Regions from separate parts of the Homo sapiens genome. Here region 2 is linked to region 1. The links come from fine-mapping of genetic effects on gene expression. A gene starts in region 1. The other region holds a variant in brackets. All regions are shown on one strand. Distances are between the middles of the regions.

Region 1 (4,402 bases):
CCTAGCACAATTCCTTGTAAATAGGGGGCACGTGATCTCTGCTGAATAAATGAGTCCATTTCTCCTTACTCCGAAAAATAACCCTGGCAAGCATGTAAAATATCCTACCAGTCTGAAAAATATTCTCCAGTCCTATTCAGCTACCAATCCATTCTCAGAACCCATCAAGAGCAATTTTCATGAAAGCCTCACTCACACGCACAAAGAGGCAGCATTTAATTCCCATTAGGCTCACTGCCTGATCTACGGAGATATAAGCATTTGCACATTTGCATAAATTCAGGAGACATCCTTCATTTGATATAAGGTAAATCTTAAAGCTTCGCTTCATTTCCAAATAAGTTTTATTTTTCAAATCAAAAATATTTTTAAAGTTTTATTTTTCAAATCATAATCCTAATCATAGTACATTATATCTTATTAGGGATGCTTTTAAGAAAAAAAAATATAGCTGTCAAAATTAAAATCTTGTTTTTTCATTTCTAGACATCTGGGACATTTCACTTATATATTTATTATTATTTCACATTAGTTCTCAAAGTTAAAAAAAAAAGCTGGCCTATTTCCTTTAAGAAATTTAATTTTAGGGTCTGTCAACATTTTGAATGCATTACTGTTATTTTTAAAATACACACTTGCATACTGGAATAAAACTTAGCATAAGCTTTCCATATAACCATTTCCTGGGCACTTACTAACTTACTATATGCCAGGCTCTATGCTTAACACATTACTCCATTATCTCATTTGTTTAACAAATATCCTCTCATAATTTTTGCAGCACTGAACATAACAAGAAGACATTGCACTATAAAACTGGTATTTGTACTGGATACCAGAACTAAATTGACAGTAACGCCTAACACAAGTTTATTGTTATTAAATTCAAGTTGTGTTACTGTATTAACACAGAATCTGATCAGCAATGTTGAGATGTAGAGAATACCATCTGTGGTAGCATCAACAGAGAAAGCTATTATTAAGTGACTACTTAAGTTACATTCCCTTCTATAGGTAACAGATGAACATAATCTTATCTACCCAGAAATTTAATTCCAATCACTACATGCCATTTTGAAGAACATAAACGTAACCTACATAAAATGACTATATAAAGAACCCTTGCTTCCTTCTGAAAATGCTTCAAAATTCTAGATTAAATTCTCCCCCAAAGTATCATGCTCAGCATGTCATAAAGAAAGGTGCCTTTATTGTCAACTCTTGAAAATAAATGCTGCCCTACTTTTTTTTACTCTTGAATTTCAGTCTCAACAGATGGGCAATTCCAGTTTAAAAAAAAAGAAGAAGAAAAGAAAAACACACACACAATAATTAATGAAGTTCTTCAACAGTTCCCTAAAACCAACATCCTCCCAATAGCAAATTGTATTTCCAAGTTGTTCCAAGAAAGGGACACAGGAAAGGGAAGGGAAGAGTCTATACAAAGGAAAACAAAAATGAGTGACTTGAAAGAAAGGACATCAGAAAAATGGGTGGCCTCAACAGGAACCTATAGTGTCTGACTCTGCTGCTGTCTGTCGAATTTAATTCTACCACCTAAGAGTTTTGAGACGAGAACCACAATACTATTTCGGTGGTAGGAAAAACTATGCGTTGCCCCTGAATGGAGCTGCAACAGTAAAGGATGCCACCCTGCCAGGTAAGGACAGAATGAGGAGGAACTGTCAAACGGTTATGAAAGTCCCTTGCAAAACACACAAGCGGCTCTAACTGCCTTGCACCAGACAGACCCTCAAGTACAGGATCACGGGGCCTCCCCGCGATGTGACAGGGAAATAACGGGCGGCCTCGCGGTCCCCAGGCCTGGCTGCTATCCTCAGGGGTCGGCCTCCCCTCTCAGGTCTCAAGTCAAAGGTCACATCCTCTGAGATGCCCTCCCGGATCACCTAACCTAAAGAGCCTCGCCCCCATTCCTCTAGCCCGCAACTGCCTGTCCCGTTTCTAAGAAAGCATTTCCGTATCCGCAAAACATCGCAGCTGCGTGTGTTGTTTCCCTTCTACAGAGTGAGCTCTGCGGGGCAGGGGCCTCGCCTGCGCTGTTCACCCGGAGCCCCGCCTGACAGAACCGGCTTCCCGGTGAGGCCCGAGGCGGCGTTTGCGAGCTCGGCCGCGACACCACGCGCGTCCAGAACGTGGAGCTCAGATGGGGGCCGGCCTGGCCAGTCCAGGCATCCCCGGGGGCGCCTGCGGGGCCTGAACGAGACAAGGAAGGAGCGGACGCCCGCGCAGGCGGAAGCCACGCGGCGGAGCGCGGTCCCGCGGGGCGACCGAGGCTGACGGCGACTCCCGCACCCCGGTGGACCCACAGGCCGCCCGGAAGGCCCAGTGCCGGCCCCAGCCCCGGCCGCCCGCCTCCGCGCCCCCGGCTCGGCGCGCGAGTCCTCGAGCCGTGTCGCCTGCGGCCTCCCTACCCTAAGCCGCAGACCCGTCGCGTTCTGCCCAGTACGAACTTCCCGCCGCTTTCGCCGACTCGTAACTCGGCAGCGGCGCCGGCCCCTTCGCACCCTGCAGTATGGAGCCTTCCCATTGGCTCGGAGGCGACGAGGAGGGGCGGGACGAGTGGTAACGCGAGGCGCGGGGCGGAGGCTACGCTAGCCCCGCGCCTCCCCGGGAATGCCGGGAGCTGTGGTCCAGCGCTCCCAAGGCATCCTGGGAGTTGGAGTCTCTTAGCGGCAAAGGGAGATCCCCGTCCTTCTGCTCCCTGGTCTTCTAGGAAATGTGGTTTACAGCCTTGTTCGTAGTAGCTTGATTTATTAAGTGTATTGGCAGAGAGTTGGGTGTAAAATAAGTTTCCTGTTTCTGTTAGGATTAAATGAAATAATCTATAGGCAGTACTTTAAACTTAGTTGGTGCTCAATAAATAGCAGATAGTGTTAGTATTATTCTGCCCACTCATTGATATGTGTCTAAATCCTACCTGTTTTTCGAAGCCTATTTCAAAGCATATCTCAATGTCTACCTAATCATCTATAGTGTTTCATCTGTAATCAACGTATGCCACAGTTTGCATTGTGTTTATTATTTATTTTTATTTATTTATTTTTTTGAGACGGAGTCTCACTCTGTCGCCCAGGCTGGAGTACAGTGGCACAGTCTCGGCTCACTGCAAGCTCCGTCTCCCGGGTTCACGCCATTCTCCTGCCTCAGCCTCCCGAGTAGCTGGGACTACAGGCGCTCGCCATCACGCCCAGCTAATTTTTTTCTGTTTTTAGTAGAGACGGGGTTTCACCGTGTTAGCCAGGATGGTCTCGATCTCCTGACCTTGTGATCCGCCCGCCTTGGCCTCGCCAAGTGCTGGGATTACAGGCGTGAGCCACCGCGCCCGGCCGCATTGTGTTTATTATAATCAGCTAAGTCTCCATCACCCATGAGGCTGAGAGCTTATTGGGCACTGGGTCATTGTTCTAGGTCAAAATCACTGAAGTCACAGGCAGAGGGAGATTAACAATGAAGCCAATGAAGCGTAAGCTTCAGGACCTCACTTGCGCAGGTCCCTCAATGAGTTTACATAGCTTTGGGGGTTTATTTGTCGATTTTACTTTTCTTTTTCTTTTTTTTAAAGATATAGTCTCACTTTGTCACCCAGGCTGCAATGCATTGGCGCGATCTCGGTTCACTGCAGCCACGACCTCCTGGGCTCAAGCAATCCTCCCACCTCAACCCTCCGAGTAGCTGGGATTACACGCACAGGCCACCACTTCTGGCTAATTTTTGTATTTTTTGTAGAGACAGGGTTTGACCATGTTGCCCAGGCTGGTCTTGAACTCCTGAGCTCAAACAATCCACCCCGCCTCAGCCTCCCAAAGTGCTAGAATTACAGGCATGAGCCACCACACCCAGCTGATTTTTCTTAAAGTAGATCCCCCAAAATTATGTGAGCTTCAGTCCCTACAAAACCTGGAATCACTCTGTCCATTAGACAGGGCAATATTGTGCCTGATGTCTTACATTTTCCCCTCCAGATACCCTCATCTGCTCCAAATACTTCTCCTGCCTGCCCTCTGCCCCAGGAGGCTGACCTCTACAAATTACTTCGCGCTCCCTGTGCCCCCTGGCTTTGGGGCGTGCCCAGTGGAGAACCCCACAGAAGATTGGAGGAAAAAGAAAGGTTGGTTAGAGTAGGTTAAGCCCCTGGATCCTGACTGGCAAGGTCACCTCCAGTTGGCAGGTCCCTCAGCTGAAGGTCACTGCTCCCTGGCCCTCCCTCCAGTTTGCGGTAGTAGCCCTTCCCTTTGTGCCTCAGGTCTGGAAGTGATGACATCACGGCTGCTGCTGACCCACAAGTTACTGCATCCTCCCTCGTGGTTCCTACCCCCAACACCGTTGTAAATAGTCTCATTGCAAATAACCTTCCTCAAATTACCCTATTTGGAATTATGTC
Region 2 (4,402 bases), 30 kb before region 1:
TCCTGAACTTCATTTAAACATAAAACTACATTTTGAAAGGTCATATCACATACATTTGAAAAATCAACCCAGAATGACCATCACCAAGATATAATTTAGTTAACTTAATAGTAAATGAAAATACTTTTTGAGCATCTGCAGATATTTTATAAGGAAAATAAAATCAAATTGTCATCACTTTAACAGCAACATTTTATGCCAGGGGAAAAAAAGTAACATATTTAAGACTCTAAGAAAGGAAACATGAACCAAAGATTTTATACCCAGCTAAATTTCGAGTATAAAGACTGCTAAGTGTTATCAATATAGAAAACAGCAATAAGAATCTACTAGAGAAGAAGCCCAGTAGAAGGGGTCTGCCACTCCCATAGCAATATCCAAAATGACTAAAGAAATGTCAATATCAGTGAGCAGTAAATATATACTTGTAGAACTGAGACTCAACAAGGGTTATAAAAGAGAGAAAAGAGTATATAATGGGCAAATGTACTGACACTGTAGATATAGTACAACTATCAAAAAATGGGATAACATACGCAAAAAAGGCAACTTTCCAGAAATCATATTGTGATACTTGATTTTGTTAACTAAGACTGTTGTGTGCATACATGTGGAATGATGCAAATGAGTAATTATGTGATATTATTATTCTATCATTCTCTTGTGTCCCTGAACATCAGGATTCAGATATGGAAGAAAGAGACAGAGATAAAAGATAGAATAGGTAAAGGTAAAAATGCTGTACTTGGAAATATTTTTAGTTCAGAATGTATCTTTAAAATAAACACATACACAGAAACACATCTTTGTATTTCCTAGCCCCATTCACTAAAAAGCTTAGAAACAATAATCAACCCAGCAGCAAAGAGCATCCCTAGCAAACAAATTGTAGTCTTAAAATACCACTTCCCATGAAAAGAAACCAGGTTCCTTAACAAAATGATTATTGCTCCTATAATTAATATTCACCAAGGGATCAAAACTGGAAATCCTCTCATACTCAATGAGCATGCCCAGTCCATTCCCACTTCCCTCTCAAAAAAAAAAAAAAAAATTAAAAGAAAACACTCCTAAGCAAAATCTGTACTTTATTTCCTGTAAACTATGAGTAACCTCGGCTCATTTTTCTTTTGAATTATTAGTCTTGCTTTTTATTTCCAGGCACATCTTATATGTTGTATATTAAACAGAGTAGCTCTGTGTCTTGCGCATAAACGTTAAGAAGTCACTGAAATATACTCAGCTGCTCTGCAAGAGGCCACTATGACAGAAATATTTCTTTAAAATGTATCTAAATGAAACTCCCTCCTGTGGCTTCTAATGGAAAAAGATGTGGAGGATTCCCTCTTGCTCTTGCTGGCCCCTATAATCTCAGGTGGCCTCAGGCAACCAAAGGCCCTGTCAATCCTTAGGGCCTGCTTCAGCCAGGTATAAGCAGGGCCAATGGCAGTGTACTAATAAATACTTGTTCAATACTTATCTTTTAGCATCTTGAGAAACACAAAAGACTTAAATACAGCTGGTATACCACATACTCATATAGAGCTATTTAACACAACCTTCCTAGAAAAAAAAAAATTATACTTGGTGGCAGTTATAATTTTTTTAGTGTGCTGCTGAATTCTATTTGCTAATATTTTATTTAGGAACAAGACTGATATTTAGACGAGATCGGGCACACTCAGGGTGGTATAGCCATAGACAAGACTGATATTCATAAGAATGGTCTGTAGTTTATTTTTTCTGCTACATTTATCTGTTTAAGTATCAATATTATGCTCACTTCATAATAAGATTTTGGAAGCTTTTCTTCCTTTACCACAATCTAAGGAGTTTAAGCAGCATTTGATCTATTCCTTAAGGTTTTGAAGACTTCA[A/G]CTGCAAAAGTCTGACACTACAAAGTGTTGGTAAGGAGTTGGAACAAACAGAACTCTCCTACACTGTATACTGTTTCGATCATTTTGAAAATTCATTTGGCAGTACCTGCTAACCGACCCAGCAATTCAACTTCTATGCATGTACATGTCCACCCAAAGACATGTACAAGAATGATAACAGCTTTATTCACAACAGCCACAAACTGGAAACCTGTATGTCCAACAACAGGAAAATGAATATAGTAAGACGGATGGACATACCAAACACTGTGTTAAGAAAAAGCAGCACCAGACAGAAGAGTACATACTATATTCCATTTACATGAATTTCAATAATAAAACAAATCAATGGTGATACAAGTCAAACAGCAGATATCACTTTGGGGACTAAGGGTCAGAAGAAATGGCTGGAGGTGGATGGTTCCTAGGGATCTGGTAGCATTCTATATCCCAATCTTGGTGTTTAAACAATTGGTTCATGTTATAGAAAGTAATCAAGAAGTATACTTATTATTTCATCCTGTTTATTTATGTAAAATTAACACAGTAAGTAAGGTACACAAATCACAAGTGTGTGATAACAGTCAGTGTCCATTCAGGAGCTAGAAAACAAACAATCAATTAAAACAAGAAAATGTAACATAAATAAAAAATTATTAATTTGTAAAAAGTTGTCAAGTGCTAATAGATGTAAAAGACAATTTGAAGGAATATGGAACTAGCAAATATAGGGAGCAGTTACTGTCTCCAAGGCTAAGGGAGAGTGCCCAAGAAAGGAACACTTCACTGGACAGACTGTGGCAGTGACCCACTGAGCGGTAGGGTAGTTCTCTGTAGGGCCAGTGAGCTACAGCTTATCCACAGGAATCTGCTGCCCACGAGATACTGGTGGGAGCAAGAAGCTGCCTACCAGGGTGCTAATGAAGCTTACAGGAGAGTAAGTAGAGCTGACAGCCACACCTTAAGAGATTAAGAAAAACAAACAAACGAACAAAAAAACAAGCACATGGCAACAAGAGAAGCACTTTCTCTGCTAAGTCTTGCAGTATCCCTTCCTCACCTTCTACTGACAAAATCTAACACTGTCCAGGAAAAGAAAAAATATTTAAAAGGTCTGGCTCGAGTATATAAATAGAGCAAAAAGGGGTGAATTTGGAGTTGAGAGGCAATAAATTACTAACTTGCACAAAGTAAACTGACAAAATTTTACAAACGTACATACACTTGTGCGACCACCAGACAGAACATTTTCATCACACCATAAAGTTCCCTAGTGCCCCTGCCTGCCAACACCTATTCCTGTTCTCCCAGACAAAGGCTTATTAATGTGCCTCTCAGGGTGTGCCCCTTTCTTTAGAGAACACAGTTCTGCCAGCTTTCCTGACATCTGTGTCTCAGGTTCCCTTTCAGCATCCTCCCATACCCTGTTTGACCTTCACTGAATTTGGCAGCTCCTTATTTTCTAGTTCAGGGCTACAGAAGCTTCTCAGTTTCTCAGAATATGAAATCACTGTTTCTCAATCTCCTTGTTGCTTTTCAGGCAATTTCTTAAAAGAGGAATTATTTAAAACCAGAAGTCCCTGCTCAAAGAAATAAAATAATCACAAGTATTTGCTTCAGTAAGTTAGTGAGTTTTCTGAAGAACTTAAAATACTAATTAGAATTAAACAATCACTTTAGTACATTATAGGTTTCTTCTAATAATGAAACCGATGCTTGCATTAAGGTTTCTATTAATGAATATACCGAAAGGCACAAACTTTAACAAAATTAAATCTTTCCACATAATTTCAGCCCCTCTGACTCTATGCAAGTCTACTTTTATAGTAGCCAATGCAACAGAGAGGTTTCAAAGAAAAAAAAGTTTAGCATTACATAATCTGACCACTTCTTTTCCTCTGATATTAAATGAAATGCAGATGCAACTGAAAAGCACATCAAGATGCAAATCAATACTGCCCTTTGCTGAAATCACTCATTGGTATATTCCATATTAGCATATTCACCAAAATTTAATTGTAAACAGAGTAATTATGGTACTAAAGTTATTAAATACACAAAGCAAGCTTGGAACTATACATATTCAAATAGAATTTCAGTGGCAGATCAACTTTTATATCTGCAACAATACCCTAATTAATAGTCAGCTCTGATGATAAAATGGTCCTCTGTTTTTCAGATAACATTCCAAAAAAAGTTCTGCTATGAATATTAAAATAAAGTTTTGTGAATAGATTTTTAAAAATTTCAATAGCTATATTTATCACAATATGGTACTGTATTTAGACAACTGGCATTCTTCAAGTCCTGGATTCAAATTTGGAATTTTTTTTTAACCTTCTGCTGAAGAGAGGAAAAAGGCTTGAATGAATCACAACAATGACACTTACACTTAATGAGCTCTATGAATTCATCATACACAAACTGGAAAATTACAATGCTGAATAAAGCTCGTTATATACTGAATGACTACTCATAAATTTTCCCCAAAATAGTTCTGCATGTAAACTCCTTTAGGGGGTCAT

Direction of the effects. Positions count from the first base shown, and alleles are read on the strand shown. Sizes are in standard deviations (SD) of each study's normalised expression.
For the expression in testis of the gene that starts at base 2,498 in region 1, A is the high allele of the variant in region 2 and G is the other (small effect, 0.28 SD a copy in GTEx).

What was found.
Region 2: its variant is fine-mapped to the expression of VRK1 in testis (GTEx, PIP 0.96). The same link has a PIP of 0.9 or more in thyroid.

The regions. Positions count from the first base shown.
Region 1 is chr14:96,795,478-96,799,879 of GRCh38, reverse strand. It overlaps VRK1 (VRK serine/threonine kinase 1), which reads right to left and starts at 2,498. Exons shown (of 13, transcript NM_003384.3): 1 at 2,433-2,498. RefSeq lists an enhancer at 1,641-2,172 and silencers at 2,117-2,406, 2,417-2,616.
Region 2 is chr14:96,825,859-96,830,260 of GRCh38, reverse strand. All of the region lies in intron 1 of VRK1 (VRK serine/threonine kinase 1), which reads right to left. Among named protein-coding and RNA genes, the nearest start is that of VRK1, 31 kb to the right of the region's middle. The variant A/G (reference allele first, on the strand shown) is at 1,878.